2 separate regions of the Homo sapiens genome follow, and region 2 is linked to region 1. A link means that fine-mapping ties the variant in region 1 to the expression of a gene that starts in the linked region. Tissue or cell type: adrenal gland. Region 1 holds a variant in brackets; the other region holds the start of a gene. All regions are shown on one strand. Distances are from middle to middle.

Region 1 (8,186 bases):
ACAGACTTTAAATTGTCTTGTGAAAGTTATGCTAAACAATAGAATTAGCTAAACAGAAAAGTACCTGTGTAGCTGCTGGCACTTGTGGCCTATTCAGAAATACATCAAATGAAGATTATAGAAATTCAGTGGTAAGGGATAGACAAAGAAATTACTTAGTTAAGTGAGTAAACTTTATCTAGCTCATTCTTTGATCAATTTGATTTTAGGAGGTTCAATTTATGGGGACCTTGGGTAAGGAGCATATCCCAAACTCTTGGTATTATCCTCCCAATAGTCATAATAATAGTCTTCCTGGTGCACTGTATTCTCTCAAAGGTTTTAAATGCTTGCATGCAGCCATCTCTAGAATGTCATATGGTCTCTCTTCAACTGGAATAACAGGAGCTGAAAGAAATGTGCAACCATGAGGACACCTATAAATGACGTGCTGAGACCGGAAACTCAAAATGTTGGTAACTGAGAGTGGTGCTAAGGCCCTAAGTTTTGATTACACTCTCACCTAAGTGAGAGCATGACAAAAAAGGGGAAATTTTTTTAAACAAAATTATGGGAGTCTATTGTTTTGGGCTAAGCTCATGCACTAGGCCCCAACAAACCAAGCCAAACCAAAATGGAGTTGCTCATGCTAAGACGTTAAAGAAACACATAGATTCTAGAACAGATGAAGCTTTGTTTTTTCTCCTGCAAATCTCTATAACAAACATTTCTGACAGCATAGGTATCCACTCCGTGAAGTTCCCATTAAATTTTTTAACCAAATTCATTTCTTCTCACCTAGAGACCATCAAGCTTCAGATGATCATGCAACAAAGGTTCCAGCCAGTTCAAGGTGAAGACACCACCCCTGACTGTCAGGGAGCACCTACCCTGCCTCCACCAGACTGAGCAAGGCAAGAGATCCATGATCCACAATACTTAGGGACTATGCCCCAAGCCAGCATGAAGCAGTTACAGAAAAAAAGACCGTTGGTCCCTCTGCCTCCCATAAATATTTACAGGGATCATATCTCTCAGGGGGAAGATGAGGCAAGAAAAATGGGGTCTGGAGGCCGGGAACATAAGGCCGATTCACACTTTAGCTATGACAGGAAATATCCTCTCCATAGGACGTAGGCCAAGTAAATGACTTTATAACTTTACTTCATCCTCTCCATTTACATAAGCCATACCCCAAGTAACCAATGGAATCCTCTAGGGGGTATTTACATCCCCCAAATCTCTGTAATGGGGTCTTTGAGCCCCTATGCTCAGGCCTGCTCCCACACTGTGGAGTATACTTTCATTTTCAATAAATCCTTTCATTCCCACCTTGCTTTGTTTGTGCATTTTGTCCAATTCTTTGTTCAAGACACCAAGAAACTGGACACCCTCCATTGTTAATAGATTGAGTGGACGTTACCATCCAAAATCACTGTTTGCTTCTGTTTCCTCTGCAAAATGTTGATTAATGAGAGAAAAGGATTTGTGTGACTAGTCTTGGTTGTAGGGACTCTGGTATAATTTTTGCTATGATAATTGGACTGAGTTGCTATTGGATTGAGTACACCACTGGAAAGTCTAATCATTGGTGGCCAAAAGATGGATCCTTTAAATTAGAATGACTCCTAAATTTTAAAAAGATATCTCTCATTCCAAGCAATTGCCTTATTTGTATTTATGGGAGATCAAAAAATGTTTTTTTTTAAAGATAAATAATAGTGTTGTGGCCAGCCTCAGAAATTCGGCAAAATTGAAGAGCCAGAATCTGACCTAAAACAAAGCTAAAGCCCTTCATAATTTCAAACAGCCTGCTTTGGAGCTGTTCCACCGTGTAGTCTGGTAGTTAAAATTCTGTGCTTTCACTGCCATGGCCTGGTTCAATTCCCAGTCAGGAAATCAGTTCCTTTGGTTTGATATTTATGTGACTTTTGACCTTTTGGAACACCCATTTGTTATCGATCCCTTCGCCTTCTATGAACAACTTTTGATTTCCTGTCTTCTTCCATCTGTGGGGTCAAACAGAGGTTTTGGGCCTTGTGTATCAATGGTCAACTGAGAAGCTGAGACCCTGAAAGATATGGCCAGATCAATGTGGGCTGTCCCCCTTTTGTGGCTAGCAAAACCTTCCTTTCTTTGAACCATTTCTGGGGTGGTTCTGGATTTTATAAAGACTGCTTTGCACCTCTTTGGAGATGCCTCATGTGTCCTTGGTGAAGGTATAACCTTATTTAAGGCTTATTGGTTTAGTGAGTCACTTGGGAGGGTACCTTCGGTTAAAAAAAAAAAAAAGTTCAAAACCCAGGAATTTCAGCTGTTTATCCTGGCTAAAATCTGATAATAAGATATTTAAAAGGATTTTTAAAAAGCTATTCTATGGTCAGAGGTCAGCTTAGTTAAAAGCTGATATTCAAGATCCTCCTTCCTCTTTGCTGTCTTCAGTGCTACATGAAGAAATCTAGGCCTGGCATGGTGGCTCACACCTGTAATCCCAGCACTTTGGGAGGCTGAGGCGGGTGGATCACTTGAGGTCAGAAGTTCAAGACCAGCCTGACCAACATGATGAAACCCCATCTCTACTAAAAATACAAAAATTAGCTGGGCATGGTGGCGTGCACTTGTAATCCCGGCTACTCGAAAGGCTGAGGCAGGAGAATCACTTGAACTCAGGAGGCAGAGGTTGCAGTGAGCTGAGATTGAGCCATTGCACTCCAGCCTGAGCAACAAGAGCAAAACTCCATCTAAAAAAAAAAAAAGAAAAGAAAACAAATCTGAGCGAACCTCTAATGACTCAGACCCCTTAAGGGACACAGAAAGAGTCACCACTCATCCCCTTTTTAAGGTATTCTGCCTTCCTGTGGAATCTGAAGAGTCATGGACACGTTCCTCTCAAGTCTAAACTCTACTGTCTTTTACATCAATTACCCGATCTCTTTCATTTTTAGGGGTACCAGGGATTACTGGTGAGACTATGAGACAATACGCTTTGGTATGTATGATGACTGGTGGATCACTGGTGAGAGCTACAGTCTGGGAGGTGGCTGACTATGGATGTGAAATCGTCTTTGCAAAAATCATAATTGAGGAAATTATTTCATGAAAGAGATCAGACCTGACTGACCCCATCTTCCTTCTAACCTCTAAACTGCCTTTGTTCATTCCTGGGTGTAGGCCGAACTAGCCTTGCGAAGGAATTTAGTTTATAGTTTAAACTCTGAAACAAAATGGATTAATAGCTCTTTCCCAAAAAAACCCTTCTTGCCTGGGGACCAGTCTGTCTTTGTAAGACTAACAAATTTGCTACAAAATTAGATATCACAGTTTAGGGGCCATGCAGCCTCTGGCTGCAAGAGTCTGAACCTCCCCAAATTGCTCCTGGGAATAACATCACTGTTGTAAAACCTAAGATCAGTGCTTGAGATATTTTGCAGGCCCTACATTCTGATGCAGCAGATGACATCATCCAGACTGATTATCTGGCTCAACCAATTTTGTGATCCCACCCGGGAATGGAAGTCATCAAGGACTCACTTCTACCCCCCGTGATTTTATCTTCAACCGACCAATCAGCACTCCCCACTTTCTAAGCTCATACCCTCCAAATTACCCTTAAAAACTCTGATCTCCGAATGTTCCAGGGGACTGATTTGAGTAATAATAAGACTCCGGTCACCCCGCACACCCGGCTCTGTGTCAATTACTCTTTCACCATTACAATTCCCCAGACTTAATAAACTGGTTCTTTCTAGGCAGCCAGCCCAATGTGAACCCATTAGGCAGTTACAGTTGCAATGAATGGTAGTTACCACAAGGGAATACTCATTTCCTTGTGCATTTATTATTTAGTCTTTTTTAAATTTTAATTTTAAATTCCGGGATATATGTGCAGGATGTGCAGGTTTGTTACAAAGGTAAATGTGTGCCATAGTGGTTATGTAACCGCCCAAGTGGTTCACCTTGCCCTCTGCCTAGACTGAACCAATTTACCAAGACAGGGGAATTGCAATGGAGAAAGAGTAATTCACGCAGAGCTCGCTGAGCGGGAGACTGGAGTATTTTTTTGGCTTGGTTTGATTTTTGTTTTTTGTTTTTGTTTTTTTGAGACGGAGTTTCACTCTTGTAGCCCAGGCTGGAGTGCAATGGGGCGATCTCGGCTCACTGCAACCTC[C/T]GCCTCCCGGGTTCAAGCAATTCTCCTGCCTCAGCCTCCCAAGAGTAGCTGGGATTACAGGCGTGCACCACCACTCCTGGCTAACATTTTTTATATTTTTAGTAGAGATGAGGTTTCATCATGTTGGCCAGGCTGGTCTCGAACTTCTGATCTCAGGTGATTCACCCTTCTTGGCCCCCCAAAATGCTGGGATTACAGACGTGAGCCACGCGCCTGGCCCCACAGTTTTATTATTAATCAAATCACTCTACCTGAGCATTCAGGGATCAGAGATTTGGTGGGTAGGGGCTTGGGAAGTGGGGAGTGCTGATTGGTCAGGTTGGAGATGGAATCATAAGGGTTCCAAGTGAGTTTTTCTTGCTGTCTTCTGTTCCTGGGTGAGATGGCATAACTGGTTGAGCCAGATCACCAGTCTGTGTGGTATCAGCTGATCCATCAAGTACAGGGTCTGTAAAATATCTCAAGCACTGAGTTTAGGTTTTGCAATAGTGATGTTATCCCCAGGAGCAATTTGGGGAGGTTCAGACTCTTGGAGCCAGAGGCTGCACGACCCCTAAACTGTAATTTCTAATCTTGTAGCTAATTTGCTAGTTCTGCAAAGGCAGACTGGTTTCTAGGCAAGAAGGGGTGTTTTTCAGGAAAGAGCTGTTATTAATTTTGTTTCAGAGTCAAACCATGAGCTGAATTCCTTCTCAAAGTTAGTTTGGCCTATGCCAAGGAATGAACAAGGACAGCTTAAAGGTTAGAAGCAAGATGGAGTTAGTTAGGTCTGATTTCTTTCACTGTCATGATTTCCTCAGTTATACTTTTGCAAAGGCGGTTTTAGTTTGCTGCACCCATCAAGCAATCACCTACATATTAAGCCCCGTGTGCATTAGGTATTTATCCTGATGCTCTCCCTCCCTTCACCCACTCCCAACAGACCACAGTGTGTCCATGTGCTCTCATTGTTCAGCCCCAATTATCAACGAGAACATGCGGTGTTTGGTTTTCTGTTCGTGTGTTAATTTGCTGAGGATAATGGCTTCCAGCTCCATCCATGTCCCTGCAAGGGACATTATCTCATTCCCTTTTATGGTGGCATAGTATTTCCTGGTGTATATGTACCACATTACCACATTATCTTTATCCAGTCTGTCACTGATAGGTCTCTGGGTTGATTCCATGTCTTTGCTGTTGTGAATAGTGATGCAATGAACATATGTGTGCAGGTATCTTTATAATAGAATGATTTATATTCCTTTGGGTATATACCCAGTAATGGGGTTGCTGAGTCAAATGGTATTTCTGCCTCTAGGTCTTTGAGGAATCACCACAGTCTTCCACAATGGTTGAACTAATTTACATTCCCACCAACAGTGTAAAAGCGTTCCTATTTCTCCACAACCTCACCAGCATCTGTTGCTTCTTGATTTTTTAATAACCACCATTCTGACTGGCATGAGATAGTATCTCATTGTGGTTTTGATTTGTATTTCTCTAATGATCAGTGATGTTGAGCTTTTTTTATGTTTGTTGGCCACATGTATGTCTTCTTTTGAGAAGTGTCTGTTCATGTCCTTTGCCCACTTTTTAATCAGGTTTTTATTTTTCTTGTAAATTTGTTTCAGTTCCTGGTAGATTCTGGATATTAGATCTTTGTCAGATGGATAGATTGCAAAAATTTTCTCCCATTCTCTAGGTTGTCTGTTCACTCTGATGATAGTATCTTTTGCTGTGCAGAGTTCTTTAGTTTAATTCAATTCCATTTGTCAATTTTTGCTTTTGTTACAATTGCTTTTGATGTTTTCATCATGAAATCTTTGCCAGTGCCTATGTCCTAAATGGTATTGCCTAGATGGCCATACTGCCCAAAATAATGTATAGATTCAATGCTTTTTTTTTGTTTTTTTTTTTTTGAGACGGAATTTCACTGTTGTTGCCCAGGCTGGAGTGTAATGGTGCAATCTTGGCTCACTGCAATCTCTGCCTCCCAGGTTCAAGCAATTCTCCTGCCTCAGCCTCCCGAGTAGCTGGAATTACAGGCATGTGCCACCATGCCCAGCTAATTTTGTATTTTTAGTAGAGACAGGGTTTCACCATGTTGGTCAGGCTGGTTTTGAACTCCCGACCTCAGGTGATCCGCCCACCTCAGCCTCCCAAAGTGCTGGGATTACAGGTGTGAGCCACTATGTCTGCCCTTATAGATTCAATGCTATTTCCATTAAACAACTATTGACATTGTTCGCAGATTTAGAAAAAACTAATTTAAAATTCATATGGAACCAAAAAAGAGACCATATAGCCAAGACAATTCTAAGCAAAAAGAACAAAGCTGGAGGTATAATGCTGCCTGACTTCAAACTATACTACAAGTCTACAATAACCAAAACACCGCATGGTACTGGTACAAAAACAGACACACAGACCAGTGGAACAGAATAGAGATCTCAGAAATAAGACCACACCTCTGCAACCATCTGATCCTTATCAAACCTGACAAAAACAAGCAATGGGGAAAGGATTCCCTATTTAATAAATGGTGATGGGAAAACTGGTTAGCCATATGCAGAAAATGGAAACCAGACCCCTTCCTTACACCTTATATAAAAATTAACTCAAGATGGATTAAAGACTTCAATGTAAAACTGAAACCTATAAAAATCCTTGGAGCCCAGGTGCAATGGCTCACACTTGTAATCCCAGCACTTTGGGAGGCTGAGGCAGGTGGATCATTCGAGGTCAGGAGTTCAAGACCAGTCTGACCAACATGGTGAAACCCTGTCTCTACTAAAAATACAAAAAAATTAGCCAGGCATGGTGGTGCATGCCTGTAGTCCCAGCTACTCAGTAGGCTGAGGCAGGAAAATCAGTTGAACCTCGGAGGCAGAGGTTGTAGTGAGCTGAGATCACGCAGTGCACTCCAGCCTGGGTGACAGAGCAAGACTCCATCTCAAAAAAAAAAAAAAAAAAAAAAAGTCCTTGTGCATTTAAATAAAAGTGCAGGTATGAACTCACCACTGAGGGATAAAACTCTTATGGGGGATGGGCTGTTCACAGAGTGGGCTGATTGACATTGGGTTACCTGCCAGCCAGGAGAATGTCTTTGTAGTGAGGTACACTGTGGAAGCCTGTGTCATGGCCTGGTGTCATGGTGTTTCCTTCTTTTTTGGGGAGCCAGGATTCAATATAAAAGGATCCTTGATTTTTAAAGATTTAGATGTGTTGCCCTCCAATTGTGCCTGCTTTTTACATATTAAAATATTTGGCCCTGGAAACTGCAAATATTTTCTTTGCCCTATCATTAAAGGGCTCCACCTGAAGTAGTAATGTGTTTTGTTTTCCACAAACTTTTTTTCGTTTGAGCTATTTATAGCTTATAGCAATTTGGGCAAAGTACACTTTTTTTTTTTTTTAAGACAGGGTCTCACACTGTCACTCAGGCTAGAGTGCAGTGGTGCGATCTCAGCTCACTGCAATCTCCACCTCCTGGCTCCTGGGTTCAAGTGATTCTCATGCCTCACCCTCCGTAGTAGCTGGGATTACATGTGTGTGCCACCACACCCAGCTAATTTTATATTTTTAGTAGAGATGGGGTTTTGCCATGTTGGCCAGGCTAATTTCAAACTCCTGGCTTCAAGTGATCCATCTGCTTCAGCCTACCAAAGTGCTGGGTTTATGGGCATGAGCCACAATGCCCAGCAAAGTATACTTTTGTGAACAAAAATGGAAATATTTGCCTTTCTCTCTACCTGATTCCTCCAGAATTCAGAAACTATTTGCGAGTATTCTTATTTCATAACAATATGGGAATTTACATAAGTTCAATAAAAATCTGTTTTCTTTTGTAACAGGACATATTGGAGACACTGGTAATTTTCCCAAGGCTTTGACTGGAATGACATCTTTTCAGATATGACCAGACGGGTTTGAGGAATTAAAGTTGACTTAAAGAACTGGCCTGATACCTTGTCTACATGGTTCTCTTACAAGGTTCCTGACCTTGTGGTAAGTGAAAAATGTTGTTTTTTGATAGGGCCAGGAACCTCAAGATATTTGG
Region 2 (8,186 bases), 180 kb after region 1:
ATTTCCCATCTTTAGCTTGGCCAAAAATAATCTGAACAAACCAGAAATACAAATAAATGCAAGCCAAATAGGCAAGAATCTTTTTTTTTTTTTTTTCTTTTGATAGAGTTTCACTCTGTTGCTCTGGCTGGAGTGCAGTGGCGCCACCTTAGCTCACTGCAACCTCCGCCTCCGGGCTTCAAGCAATTCTCATGCCTCAGCCTCCCAAGTAGCTGGGATTAGAGGCATGCGCCACCAGGCCTGGCTAATTTTTTTGTGCTTTTAGTAGAGACAGGGTTTCACCATGTTGGCTAGGCTGGTCTTGAACTCCTGATTTCAGGTGATTCACCCGCCTCAGCCTTCCAAAGTGCTGGGATTACAGGCGTGAGCCACTGCGCCTGGCCCAAATCTATTCTATTTTTAAAATTATAACATTTAAGATGTTAAACTTCAGTTACTCCCCTATACTACTGGTAAGAGAATTCCATGTTTACCAAATATGTAACTGAAATATCGTTCTGTTGATTCCTCATTTTTATTTGTATATTTACCAGAGAGAAAGCTAAAACTCACCCAAATTCAAAAAACCCTAAAGTAATATACTATGCTATCAATCTTTAAGGGAGACTTACTTTTCAACTTCATCTGGTTTTTCAAAAAACAAATTTTCCAAAGAAAACAGGCAATCATTTGATTTCAGCATTGTTGAAAACTGGACTTTGTCATAAATCTACAAAATATGGAAAAAGTAGTTTATATTTTATTTATAAAGATGTAAAAAAATATTTCTGTATAATCACTAATTTTCCACAGTCTCCTGTAAAATATAACCACAGACTATCCTTCCAGCTTCATCGTCTGCAACTTCCTTCAAAGCACCTCAATATTCACATACATTATTCTCTGTTTTCCATTCATTCATGGATTCACACTTGCTCCCTTCTCTTCATAGTGCTCCAATGCTTGGAATGTGTTTTCTGCCATTCTCCAACTGGCAAATTCCTAACCATCCTTCAAGTTATAGGTCAAATGTCATTTCTTCTTCAAAGGCTTTTCTGAATTTGTCTTCTTCCTCAAGGCAGAATTAATCAGTCTTCTTGGGCTCTTAATACTTTGTTCACACCATTATTTTCAAGTTAGGACAGCACATTTTATTGTGAATGTGTGCACCTCTAACAATATACTATGTACATATGCAGGGATTTGCTTCAAAATAAAGGGGAGAGATGAAGGAGTATTGAAATAATATTGACAATGAGTTGATCAAAGCTAAAGCTATGTAATAGGTACATGGGGTTCATTATAATATTTTTTCATAGGTTTGAACTTTTTCAAAATAAAAAAATTACAAGTTTAACATACATATGCATATTTATTTATATGAGTTAATGCATATACTACACACGTTTACATTCTTTTTTAAAAGATAATTTTTGCACTCAGAGATATTATCTAAACATAAAGGATAAAAACATTCAGCATTGGCCACCTTTGAACATAACAAAAATCTGGGGCTGAACAAAGATGCAAATGTGATTAAAAAAAAAAACTAGTCTCTAGATACATACATTGCTCCCATTAGAATTATTTTTCCCTGCATATCCTATTTTTTTCTAAATTCTTAAACATCATAGAACATTCTATATGACAAACCATAAAATCAGACGAACAAACTGTAAAACATAAATCACATTTCTGTTTCTTCTGTTTTAGTTAATACATTGTAAATTTGTCCTCAAGATAGAAACTACAATCAAAGAAATTCTATTAATGCCATCTAGTGGAGAAATACGCATTACCAAGTCAGATTATGTCTCTCCAATTTTGAATCCTCCTTGATGTGGGGATGAGATACAAGTGGGAGTGATATGGGGAAGGGAGAATGTTTCCACATACAACACTTGACAAATGCTACTGTATGAGAACTAAACCTGTATATATACTTCAGGGCTGTTCTTACTGATATAGAATATTGTGGGGTTTTTCACTGTTTTCGTTATTGGGTTCTTCCCCCTTCCATCTGTTTAATATAATTGCCCTCTTCATTTTTCTCTATCTATTAATCAGTTACCAACAAAAACAAGTAGTAAAAATGAAACAAACTAGTGTGGTTCTATAAATGTCTAAAACAATTTGACTATACGAAAAATAGAAGCCTAGGATAATAGGGCAGGAGGTAGAGGGAGTCATTCAGAAATATGCGAAGTCTTTAACAGCTTTAAGTAAACAATTTCAGAACTTGAAAACAATTATCTGAAAAAGTATAAATGAAAATGTTAATCATGTTTTTATATTGCCCAAAAAGTAACAAATAAAATGTTCCCTTTCTAGTTTTAGGAAAACTATGTTCAAACAAAAGAAACTTTTCCTAAAATAAACCTCACCAGACCAGTTTCATATGGCTTTGCTACCTCAGAATTTAAGTCAAAAATCTTAAGGCTAACATTTATACACTTGAATACTTTCTTCCTAAAGCAACTACAAATAGACAACAAAACTACAAATTTAAAACATTTGGGAAGAAAAGCGTTGCATAAACTGACAAAAACCTCCTATACAAACAGCAAATATTTTCAAAAGAATTTTTGATTTCTAGTTCTAGCATACAAGAATATAACTTGTTTGGGTTCAGAATAAAAATATCATGTACATATTTTAGTTCTTATATACTCCTGTGAAAAAACACCCCTTATCTAAAACTGCATCCTCTCATTCCGCATTATTTTTCTTCATAGCATGAACTGATAACTAACATTATAGTATATGCTTAGTTGTTTATTATGTTTCTCCCTTTAGAGCAAGCAGGGACTTTTTGCTCATTAATGTGTTCCAATAACCCAGAATAGTGCCTGGCACACAGTAAATGGTCCATAAGAATGCATTGTGGAATAAATGCATTAGCAAGAACCAGTTTATAAAAATAGTGTCAAATAAAAATAATTTTCTGTTAATTTAGAAACTTAAAATTTGAGCCCCAATCTTCAACGTTCAGTTAAAAAATGTGAAATTTTTTTCTAGTTCAGGATTTATGTAAATAAAATCATGAAGGTTCTAAAAGATGATGAATTTGGCACTTTCATTATGTAAATCTTTTTTTAAAAAAGAAACACAGGTCCTAAAAGGGACCTTGCTACAGTTCAGTATGAGTTTGTGATGTGAGGGGATGCTATTTTAAATTAATTAAAGTTCTAGGTTTAGATTCAGATTTTTTAAGTTCCTATTATTTATTATTAAAGTTTTAGTTTCAGCACGTGGCACAAAATTAGATTGCCAAACACAATAAACAATATCATCCCAGGTAGTTTTAAGTGTCTGCTCTGCTATAATCACTGTTAAAATACTTAAGCTATTTTTGAGTCTACATAATTTGCGGTGCCGACCTTCTCTAGTTATATTAATGACAATCTCTAGTTAAATATTAATACAACTAGATACAATTAATCTTTAGTTATATTAATGACAATTCACCATTTTGTCTTCTGTAATCTTTACTTATTGTATAAAATTATTGTATACAATTATTGTATAAACTTATTGTATAAAATTGCAGGCCTATTACTTCTTACAATTTTTACTCAGAAACATACTCCTTATTTTAAAAGTACAGAAACTCAGATAAAAATTATTGATTTGCTAGAAATTTTTGTGAGTTAAGGAAGAAGTAGGGACCAACATTTACGGGAATAACCGACCGTCACAAATAACTGCAGAGAATCTGACAAAGAAGGAAAAATCAACGGGAACAAATTACTCCGAGGCTCGGCCTGGGAAAGGACCATACAATTGTCGGAGCCCCAGATCTCACCCCCTCTCCCCAGGCACCAACAGGGCTGGCTGGAAGGGTCCGGCTGGGGACCGAATCAGCACCTAAAGCAAAATAACAGCTCTGTGGATTTCCTAAGGAGAATATCCTAAATCCAAGGCAGAGGCCTTAGGGCCCCGAGAGTGGCACAAGAACGGGGCGCTGGGGCGCGTCACTCCACCCCCCGGGTCCCGTTTCCTCCCACCGCTGTGAAACCCGCGGCTCAGACAGATGGGTACGTCCCCCCCAGCGCTCGCTCAGGGGGCGCCACACACCGGAACACAAGACACAGGAACCGAACACCAATCAGCCGACTTTAGGGGCGGGCCGGACGCCCAGCCGGTCCCACCTCGCGGGGAGCTGGGCCCGCCCTGCGCCCGAGCGCGCCGCAGGCCTCACCGCTTTCTGACTGGAAATGCGGCTGAGGCGCTGGCGCGGGCCGGCGGCCTGGAGACGCCTGGTGACCAACAACTCGCCGCGCCCGTCCGCTGCCTGCCCGGCAGACGGCTCTAGAGATCGACCGCTGCCCGGACGGCTCGGCTGGGTCCCCACTTCCCCGCGGGCGTCGGGCCCCCGTCCCCACCTTCCCCGCGGGCGTCCGGGCCCCTCTCCTCACCTCCCTGCGGACAGCTCCTAGGCCAGTCGAGCGCCGATTTATCAGCCCCTCTGAGGACCGCCAAGCCTGGCTAAGCCGAGCTCCAAGCAATGGATCGCCCAAGCCCCCAACCTCTCCCTTCCTACCTTTTTTTCTCCGAAAGTTTATAACTGGTTTTGAATATATCTCTTGCAGTTTACTGTGTCTATTCTCTTTAAATACAGCTCCTAATCCTGGGTTCTAAGGGTCTACTAAATGGTACCCTTTCCCTAAGCTAACCTGCTTCTCTACCCCCACAACCACCACTCCACAAACATACCCCAACCTGCCTTTCTCATCAAAGTTAGCCAGGCCTCAGCTCTGGGACTTCCGGTCTCTTCGTACCTAAAAAGTGTTTTACCTATATTATTTATAAAATATCACAGTGGCACTCATGAGGTCGGTATTACTGGGGAACTTGATTCAGAAATAAAGTTAAATTTCAGAAATAAATATTCTAAAACACAATGATATTTAAATGTGTTTAGCCAACATGAATTTATAAAAACAGGGCAATAATGTGTTCTTAGGCTGTAAACATGAACAAACTATAAATTATCCTTTTAAGTTTCTTTAGAATTGTCCTCTGAAGATTTGGCAGGGAATGTTTTGTAGATGATAAAATAGCAACGAATCAATGATGCTTTTCTTACAGAGACATTTATCTTTCCTTTGGAAACCCCCACCTGTGACATCTAGGGCCAACCTACTGCTGTCTGACTGCCCTATTCCTGTTCTCTTTTTTCTTGCAGTTCTACTGTTCATTAGCTATATGACCTTGGAAAAGACCCAACCTTTAAGTCTTAATTCTGCATCCTCAGTGATACTCATAAGCTCTAACTCCTAGATACTGCTGCAAGGGTTAAATAAAATAATATTTGCAGTAGTCCTACCACACAGTAAATGCTCATGAATATTAATTTCTTTCACCTTCTCTGAAATGTAAAATTATTCCAGTAATTGGGTGAGCCAGTTATTTGGATACTGATAAAATAACAAGTCTTTGTCTCTTGGAGAAAATAACATTTTGACTGCATAAACTATTCTTAATAGAAAGGTTGAATTATCATTCCTCTCAAAAATACTGGAGAGGAAAGTTACTTTCCATAGACTGCATAGAGGAAAATAACGAAACAGTGCATTTGTTATAGTGAACCCCTCAATGTGTTGAAATTCATACATTGAATTCTAACCCCCGATGTGATGATATTTGAACGTGGGACTTTTGTGAGGTAATTAACTCAAAAGGGTAGAGCCTTCATGAGTAGGATTGTGCCCTTTTAAGAGGCCAGAGAGTTAGCTCGCTCTTTTCCTACCATGTGAGGATACAGGAGGACGGTATCTGCAAGCCAGGAAGGAGGCCCTCGCCAAATACCGGATCTGCCTGCACTGTGATCTTGGACTTCTCAGGCACCAAAATTGTGACAAATGTTTGTTGTTTAAGCCACCCAGCCTATGGTAATTTGTTATAGCAGCTTGAACTAAGATAGGGTTTGAGTGATAGAATTGTAGAATTCAGCAACAGGCAGGTACAGGGGAGTCTTACTGTCAAAGCACACAGTAGCAAATGGCCACCATGTTCATAAACAAAAACATTCATTCATTCACTCACTCATTTATTCAAGAATGCATGTGGAATCTATAGAGCCTTACTTTCTCTTAAAATAATGTAATAAAAATGTCAAAGCTGCAGTTTTTAAAAGGAAGCCTCAGGACAGTGATAAAGTTACTAAAAATCCCATTTTGGGGGGAGGGATTACCATGGTTTTTAGTAATGTTGCCACATTTCTCAAGAAAACATTTTAATCCTAAAGATTTAATTTTACAACCAGTGCAACAATGTCATAAGCAATCCTCCAAATTGAATAACATAACTAACATTTGAAATATAGTCTTCCCGGTCAACTTCTGGCATGACTGCATAAAGAGCTTTGCTACCTCACTTCTCAGTGAAACTGGTGAAAATTCTAGAAAAATGACTCAGACCCTCTGGAAATGATCCTAAGGGCAAACAGCAAAAGAAGAAACATCTTTTCAAGAAAGAGATACAAAAATTTGGTAAGAAAGGCAAGGCTCTGTGGTATTTTATCCAAGACTCCCAAGTTCCAGCTTAGCAAGACAGGCTCCATTCTAGACAGCTGCAGCCAAGAATACAGAGCTCTCTCTGCACCCAGCTCCCACTAGAAGGCGCGCTTTCTTTCTTTCATTGTGGTAAAACATGCGTAATATTTATAATTTTAACCATATATAAGTGTATAATTCAGGGACATTAAATACACTCATAGTGTTGTATAACCATCACTCTTATCCATACCCAAAACTTTTTCATTATCCCCAACAAGAAATTTGTGCCCATTCAGGGAGGGGAACTTCACACACTGGGGCCCGTTGGGGGGTGAGGGGCTGGGGGAAGGATAGCATTGGGAGAAATACTTAATGTAAATGACGAGTTGATGGGTGCAGCAAACCGACATGGCACATGTATATCTATGTAACAAACCTGCACGTTGTGCACATGTACCCCAAAACTTAAAGTATAAGAAAAAAAAAAAGAAATTTCTGCCCATTAAACAGGAACTCCTTCTTTTCCCCTTTCCCTAATTCCTGGTAACCTCTATTCTACTTTCTATTTCTATGAGTTTACCTATCCTAAGTACTTCATATAAGTGGGATCATACAATATTTGTTCTTCTATTTCTGGATTATTCACTTAGCATAATGTTTTCAATGTTCATCCATGTTGTAGCATGGATCAGAATTTTACTCCTTTTTAAGGCTCAATAATATTCTATTGTATTTATATACCACATTTTGTTTATCCATTTGTAATCCTGGCTAAGGGACATTTGAGTTGTTTCCACATTTCCACCTTTTGGCTATTGTGAATAATGCTTCTATGAACATTCGTGTGTAAATATCTCCGTTCAAGTCCCTGCTTTCAATTCCTTTGGATATGTACCTAGGAGTGGAATTGCTGGGACATATGGTAATGCTATTACAGCCAATGCCATGAGTTCTAGCTGATGTATCCAACATAACCAAAATTTTCTTCACTTTGTAACATCCACATCTTTTACACCCTGATTAGTCAGTAGAAATTGATATTGAAAAATTAGTCTCAGGCTGGGCAACACAGCGAGACTTCATCTCTACCAAAATTTTAAAAACTAACCAGGTGTGGTGGTGTGTGCCTGTAGTCCTAGCTGCTTGGCAGGCTGAGGCAGGAGAATGGCTTGAACCAAGGAATTCCAGGCTGCAGTGAGCTGTGATCCCACTACTGCACTCCAACCTGGGCAATAGAGCAAGATCCTGTATCTAAAAAAGCAAGAAAGAAAAAAGAAAAATTAGTGTTGATGGCTCTAGAGAAGCAGGAACCAAGAAATGTTGAGGTTTCAAGACTATTTTTCTGCAGATGACAGCCAGAAATGTGTTGTGTTTTTTATTGTCAGATTTGGACAAGAAACAGTGAAGAGATCATTTGGGAAGAATCTGAGAATTACAAAATTAATTTCTGAGAAAAAAACAGAAAAAAAGGAAATAAAGGTAGTTTGATATGATGGGATTCTCAGGAGGAAAGAAAAGTTTAGGGAGTTAGGGCCAATTCAGTAGATACTTAAATAACAAAAGGAAGACTGAATTAAGCACAAACCAAAAAAAAAAAATCTTTCTGTTCTTTCTTTCTTTTTCTTTGTTTCTCTTTTCTTTCTTTCTTTCTCTTTTCTCTCTTCCTCCCTTCCTCCCCTTCCTTCCTTCCCTCCCTCCCTCCCTTCT

What was found. PIP is the estimated chance that this variant, and not a neighbour inherited with it, causes the effect.
Region 2: HFM1 starts here. The variant in region 1 is fine-mapped to the expression of HFM1 in adrenal gland (GTEx, PIP above 0.99). The same link has a PIP of 0.9 or more in lung, thyroid and visceral fat.

What each region holds. Positions count from the first base shown.
Region 1 is chr1:91,223,226-91,231,411 of GRCh38, forward strand. No RefSeq gene overlaps it. Among named protein-coding and RNA genes, the nearest start is that of HFM1, 180 kb to the right of the region's middle. The variant C/T (reference allele first, on the strand shown) is at 4,148.
Region 2 is chr1:91,400,401-91,408,586 of GRCh38, forward strand. HFM1 (helicase for meiosis 1) reads right to left here and starts at 4,437. Exons shown (of 39, transcript NM_001017975.6): 1 at 4,398-4,437; 2 at 612-709. The coding sequence starts at 682. RefSeq lists a silencer at 4,032-4,411.